Homo sapiens: one gene and its partner. The protein of the gene in region 1 purifies or fractionates together with the protein of each later gene. This does not show direct contact. Each region holds a gene or a part of one and is shown on either strand. Other genes may lie near its edges.

Region 1 (3,500 bases):
CAGCTCGCAGCTCAGACCTCCTAGAGATAACCTAAAGGACTCAGTGGTGTGGTGGAAGAGTCACTTCCTCATGTCATTGAATGTCATGCCATGAACTACTTAACCACCGCTGTGAATAAAGGACTGAACACATGGATTTGGGGAAACCTTGAACTAGGGTATATGAATATATGCAATTTTATATGATGTGACAATACTTTCCTCTCCTCACAGATCTATTTTATGTGAGGCACTGGGAAAATTGCTGAGCTAACTGGTGTGTTCACAGGCACATGCATGCTATCAGGGAGAGTTGAGACTTGGTCTTCAAGGCAATCCTGCTAATTCGAGAGGGATGGGACTCTGCTGTGACACTTGGAACCACACTATTTGTATGCTTGTACCTCTGCCATGGGCAGACTAACACTGTCCTCTTAGAACATCAGAGAATGGCTTTGTAGAAACTTGTGAGATGCAACTGAGTCTTATGTCAGTGTTATCAGTATTAATTAATAACTGCGAATAGTAGCTGCATACACAAACTGCTTAACTTGATGCAAGGAAGAAGAAATTGAGCAAGGTTGTAAAGCTGGGGTAAAAGAAATCAATTTATTTTTACATTTTCCAACCACAGTATGTGTGTCTGACAAAGCAATCTACTTTATTATAATGCTGCTGCATTGATTTACACTCAGATAGTGAGATGAAGAGATTTTACAGTTTCTCTGGAATTCTTACATATACGAAAGTCTTTAGAATTCCCCCATATGATGATATATTTTCCTGGGTAAAATACTTAAAATCTGACTTTTCATTCATACTTACATTTCAGAGATAGTTCTAATTACAGCCTGAATTTCACTCTGCTGATTCCAACATTATTTTAAGATGAACTCAGTCAAGTCACGGATATATAAGTCATTATGCAAAAACATATTACACCATCCGTTTTGTAAATAATGTGGATTAAAGTTCAAAATGATGAACAACACACTGATAGGTGACGTCTAAAACAAAAACAGGCTTTTACAGACACTTCAGGATTCAATCCAGCAGATTATTGTGGTTGACAGGAAACTATGCTTTTATTATCCACTAGGCTTAGCAGCCACAATATTTCATGAAAGCAAAAATGACACAGAGGACCAGTGAGTTTCTATTAAAAATGTTTCTGACCTTGAATTTAGAGCCATTAGCAGCCTGTTTCAAAACAGGTAAATGCACATTGAATTCAAAGTGGTATTTCACGAAAGCAGGGGGTGGCGATTCAGTGTGTGACCCAGAGCAATTCACCCAAGCCCTGGCTGAATGGGGCTGAGCAGGTAGAAAAAGCCTTTGGATTTTAGAGAGGAAATACACTTGCATTTATTCAAATATAAATAATACAGGAAGATCACCTTTCCTAAAGCCTTCAGAATTCTCTAACCAGATTCCCTTGGCAGAAACATATTCTGAAATTGTTTATGTAAACACACACACCCACACACATACACGTGCACATATTATTTTGTGTATCCTTCACTCAGCCACAACCCTTCCGGTCATCCTTTCTGGCATCAGACCACATATTTATCCAGATGTCAATCTGTCCAAAAGCATATTGTTTGCTTGTTTTGACATCCAGAATAATATCTGTCAAATCCATTTTTTTTTTTTTTTTTTTTGAGTTGGAGTTTCACTCTTGTTGCCCAGGCTGGAGGGCAATGGCACGATCTCGGCTCACTGCAACCTCTGCCTCCTGGGTTCAAGCAATTCTCCTGCCTCAGCCTCCTGAGTAGCTGGGATTAGAGGCACCCGCCACAATGCCCGGCTAATTTTTTTTGTATTTTTAGTAAAGATGGGGTTTCACCATGCTGGCCAGGCTGGTCTCAAACCCCTGAACTCAAGTGACCCACCTGCCTCAGCCTCTCAAAGTGCTGGGATTACAGACGTGAGCCACCGCGACCGGCCTCAAATCCACTTTTTGCTCTGTTACTGCCATGTTACTCCTCTCTACCTGAAGTTTTTGTTTTCTTTAAGTTCTATAATTGCTGGTTTCCTTTGCAAAAATCAATAAATAAATGCCTCTCCTCCTCCTTCTTTCCCAAGGTAGAGTCACAAGTTTATTCTTCACGTAGAAATTTTTCTGTTACAGAAATTTCAGAATGGGGTGACTAAGCCAGTGACAAAGACAATAAAGTCAAAATAAGATCTCTTCTCTAGTGTTCTAGAACCAGACCTTTACTTAGAAAACTTTCTTGGAATCATCAGTTTAGTTAAGATATTGAGAGTAATTTTCTTCTGTTGGGCTTTTTAAAGGCAAACCAGTATCAAGATCATCCTAAAAAAAAAAAAACGAGTATCAGTCCCACAACTCCCTTGCCAGTTACAGACACAGTGGTGGCCAGAAAGTCATTTCTCGAGTCTAATCTAAATCCCTCCTTCTTTGAAGTCACGCCCTTTGCAGTCTTTAGATCACATGTTCAGAATTTAACAGCCAGAGACCTACTGAGTGACAACATTTCGTGCAGGTCCTTTAAATCATAGCAATCAATCAGAATCAACCTTCTTCTTATCAACCTTGTAATTCAGCCGAACTGTGGAAAGCCCCATGAGATAGCTGTTTAGAGCATTGACTCTAGAGTCAGATAGAAGTAGTCTGAATCACAGCTCTATCGTTCATGAAATAAGTCACCTGGGCACGTTTATCTTATTTGTGGCAGGTGAAGAAACTGATGCTCTGTGTTTAATACTACCTACTTTGAAAGATTAAGGAAGAAATAAATAAGGTAATTTAAAGTCTTTGTCAATGTAGCTATTGTAGTAACTATTTATTGGATGTTTCGAGTGCTTAACCGAAAATATTTACTGATTTTTAAAAATTATTTTATTGCAATCTCTTGCTGTGTATGTACTTCAGTGGGGAAAATTCCAATGTTCTGTGTAGACAGGTAATAAGTAAAGTAACTTTTTTAAACTCTTGATTTGTAAAACAAAAATGGCATGAACCAGGGTGGGTATAAATAAAATAGCATTTTAGAAATAGCTTTCCCTCTCCACAACTAACATACAATTAAAGCAATGACTTCGAGTAGTTTTATTAAGCCTCAGAAGGGCTGCATTTTTACTGTCCAGAACGAACCACATCTTTCCTTCCCATAGAAGACATGACATTGTCCATGACTATTTTCTGCCGAGAGGACAGAGTACAAGCACTACCTGTTCATGAGTGAGCTATTCTCTTTCAATCAAACTGTAGCCGCTCATTAAAAAACATTGCCTGGTACATATCTTTTACAAGATAAATTCCATTGCACTTCATAATCATCTACATTCCTGTGAGGACAGCACAAGTGGAAAGTCTCTACTAATTCCAAGATGAATCCAAGGTGATAGCTATATACTACTTAGAAGGGAGCTCAGAGAAGATAATGCTCGTCAGAGATTGCAACTAACTTTTTCTATTTATTTCAAGAAACTTTAGCATTGATGACAGAAATTAGATTTCTCTTCTCACTTAAGAAATGTGGAAATGGTTAAAA
Region 2 (3,500 bases), on another chromosome or scaffold:
GTTCTGGGTTTGTGGGATGTTTAGTGGCGTCCCTGGTCTCCACCTACTAGATGCCAGTGGGACCTCTCAATTGTGACAACCTAAAATGTCTCCAGACAGTGCCAAACACCCCCCTGGAGGGCAAAATCGTCCCTGAGAACTGCTGGTTTTAGAACCTTTCCCTAATACGAAGTGTGGTTTGAGGACCAGGAGCATCAGCAATATCTGGGAGAGGGTTAGGAATTCAGGATCCCAGGCCCCACCCCCTCCCCAGGCCTGCTGAGTCGGAATTTCCATCTACAAGGTCCTCGGGAGGCTCCTCTGTGCAGTACTTTATTTTTTATTTTATTTTATTTTATTTTATTTTTATTTTTATTCGAGACGGTTTCTCTCTTGTCGCTCTGGCTGGAGTGCAGTGGTGCAATCTCAGCTTACTACGACCTCCACCTCCCAGGTTCAAGCAATTCTCCTGCCTCAGCCTCCCGAGTAGCTGGGATTACAGGCACATGCCACCACGTCCAGCTAATTTTTGTATTTTTAGTAGAGACAGGGTTTTACCATGTTGGCCAGGCTGGTCTCGAACTCCTGACCTCAGGTGATCCACCCACCTCAGCCTCCCAAAGTGCTGGGATTACAGGCGTGAGCCACCACGCCAGGCCTCCTCTGTGCCGTTTTTCAGGAGCAGGAGAGAGTTCGGTTGAATTTACATGAATAAAGATACAGTGAAAGGTAGCTATTCTCAAAAATTGGATTAAAATGGGGCCATTTTGATGATGCATTTAAGAAGGAAGGGGGCAGTCTTGTGTTTGGCTCAGGCCTCTTCACCACATGAACCTGCCACCCCTTGGTAACTGTCCTGCAGCTCACAGGAAAACTGTGAGAAGACAATGGCTGCTACGCAGGGAGCATCTGCCTTCTAGAAAGTGGTTTTCAACCAGGCAGAAACGGTCTTCTGTGACCCACTAAGATCATGTCTCACATGGGTGAATAAAATCAGAATTCTTTGAACTGATTAACCCAGCACTGGCCCATGTATTAGATAATTAGTGGCTCCCAGCATTTCTGGGAGAGGGTTAAGTAGGGATGTCATCCTTGCTCTGAAAACCACAAATTACCACTGACTTCTGATGATGTGTGATCTCCTTTGCCGCAAAGAAGATCATATTAAAGAGACCCAAGTCATTTAGGGGCAGCTTTAACAATATCCACTGAGTATGTGCAGACTGCTTTATCCAGATTGGGCAGGGAGTTCTGTCGATGACACTGCCTGCAGCAGTGACATTTATAGAAAGTCCATGGCAGGAGAGAGAATAGAATCCAGGGCCCATCTCTCCTTTCGCCTGTAACTACAGGTTTAATTTTACCGGCTAGAAAGTAACTATCGTGGTGCTATTGGAAACTGTTAACATAGGTGGACTGCTAATTGAAGTTATTTGTTGTTCCCCTCATGGGTCATGGACAGAGCTGTAAATTGATAGAGGTGGCCGTCCTCCACACCACGGCCCTGCCTGGCAAAGGCCTGCTCTCATCAATGTGTGGTTTCCAAAGTCACCCTGTCCATCTCCATTCCAGCCAGCTGGAAGGGGAAACCAAGTGGGAATGTGTGCCCAAGTTTTACAACCAAACATCCAAAATGGTACGTGTCGCTTCTCCCACATTCCATAAGGCTAGAACTCAGCCCCGCAACCTAGTTTAACTGCAGGGGAGGCTGGGAGATGTCATCTAGTTGTAACCCAGCGAGAAAACTACTGGACAACTAGATTTCTGCACAAGAGATCTCCAGAGCTCCATTAGAGATTATCATGTGTGTTCATCCCATTTCTAAAGATGCCAAAGTGCACTGGCACTTAAGGTTCACTTACATGGCTGGGTTTTTGAGGTTGATGGCTGCCTTTATCTTCCAGTATGATTACTGCCCAGGAAAACACTCTGTTGCATGAACTAAAGGACTGTTTTATAGTGACCAAAAAAAGTGGGGAGGGGGTATCTCTCGAGGGCTTTTCCTAGGAATCCCAAATTTCTAGCTATCCTGAATCTTGTAGAACTCCTACACGCAGACTGTGAAATCATTACTATCAGGGGCTTACTAAATAATAAATATGATCTATTACCTTGAGCTAATTTCATAGAAACGTACGGCTGTTATGTGTTTTTTTAAAGAGCTGCAGAGGTCTTCCGTGATTCTCTAGTCTATGTGTTCCTTGTCTAGATTGAGTAATGAAATTGTGAAGTGTAATTGCTGCCTAACACAGCCAAGCTCTCCCGTGGCTGATTGTCTTGCTTTGCTTTCTTAGGGTTTAAATGCGGTATTTGACATCTTGGTGATAGGCAAATTCAATGTTCTGGAAATTGTCCAGAAGGTACTACATAAGGACAAGTCATTAGAGGTGAGTCTGTACTTTTATCTCCAGCCCAGACATGGAAAATGTCAAGTACCAGCTGATTTAAAATGCCATTCTCAAATATTCCTTGTGATTTTGAATTCTACAATAACCAGCCTTTTAAAGCACAGTGTTGAAGCAGTTCAGGCAGAATTGCTGCACATCTGTACCTGGCTCAGCCACACTTTTATGTGAAAATCAGCCACCTCTGGGGCTTTGCGATGTCCTTGCAGAATCTCGGCATGCTCAGGAACGGGGGCCTCCTCTTCAGAATGACCCTGCTCACCTCTGGAGGGGCTGGGATGCTCTACGTGCGCTGGAGGATCATGGGCACGGGCCCGCCGGCCTTCACCGAGGTGGACAACCCGGCCTCCTTTGCTGACAGCATGCTGGTGAGGGTGAGTTCTGAGCCTGCCGCCCCCTGGACTCTTTTCTTCCCCCACCAGATTCCCAGATCCCTCACCCCTCCTCCTCGTCTCACTCCTCTGCACGCCAACAAAATCCCCAATACACGCGCCACCTCCATGTTTGCTTGCGATCACTAAAGATGTTCTGGGATGAAAGCAGGTCTTCCTGAGGGGGTTGAAAGGGCATGCAGAAGCTCCTTGCATTTCCGTTCTAACAAGGAGTAAAGAGGGTGGTTCCTTCTCACATCAGGGTCCTTGCCAGTCCCGTGAAAGGGCTCCCTAACCCTGTGGCTGGGTTAAGGCTAAATATAACCTTCTTGGTGGTATCTTTAGAAGACTAGTGGTGTCAAGACTATTCTTTTAGATTTGCCTTTTTTCTAAAGGCAAGGGTATCAAGCCACAGATTCTTAGCTGTGCATTTCATAGAGACCAAAATCAAGAGAACAGCCATCGAAGCCTGTTATGTTATTGGGTGTATAGGTGACCCTGGGTCCTCAGATTTAGAGGTCACAGGCTTCAGGCAGCAAATAGATCATAGCTTTGCCAGAAATATAACGAATGTATTGCATAGTCTGATGGCTTTGCCATATTTTTATATACCAAAATCTGAATACATTTAATACATTTTTACAGACTATAGTCACATACCCAATACACGTTGGCAACATTTTATTTGATACAACTGCTTTCATTGAGCAGAAGCATATGAGTGCCTCCAAAGTGAAGTTAGTGC

What was found. The genes of interacting proteins can lie anywhere in the genome.
Region 2: the proteins of CDH8 (region 1) and TMTC4 purify together in Homo sapiens (co-immunoprecipitation; 3 studies listed by BioGRID and IntAct, with this or other methods). This does not show direct contact.

The regions. Positions count from the first base shown.
Region 1 is NC_000016.10:62,026,439-62,029,938, forward strand, and holds part of CDH8 (cadherin-8 isoform 1 preproprotein), read right to left. Parts: intron 1-3,500. UniProt on the Homo sapiens protein: Cadherins are calcium-dependent cell adhesion proteins. They preferentially interact with themselves in a homophilic manner in connecting cells; cadherins may thus contribute to the sorting of heterogeneous cell types.
Region 2 is NC_000013.11:100,636,796-100,640,295, reverse strand, and holds part of TMTC4 (protein O-mannosyl-transferase TMTC4), read left to right. Parts: intron 1-1,441; coding exon of another isoform or gene 1,442-1,615; intron 1,616-2,273; coding exon 2,274-2,366; intron 2,367-2,593; coding exon 2,594-2,758; intron 2,759-3,500. UniProt on the Homo sapiens protein: Transfers mannosyl residues to the hydroxyl group of serine or threonine residues.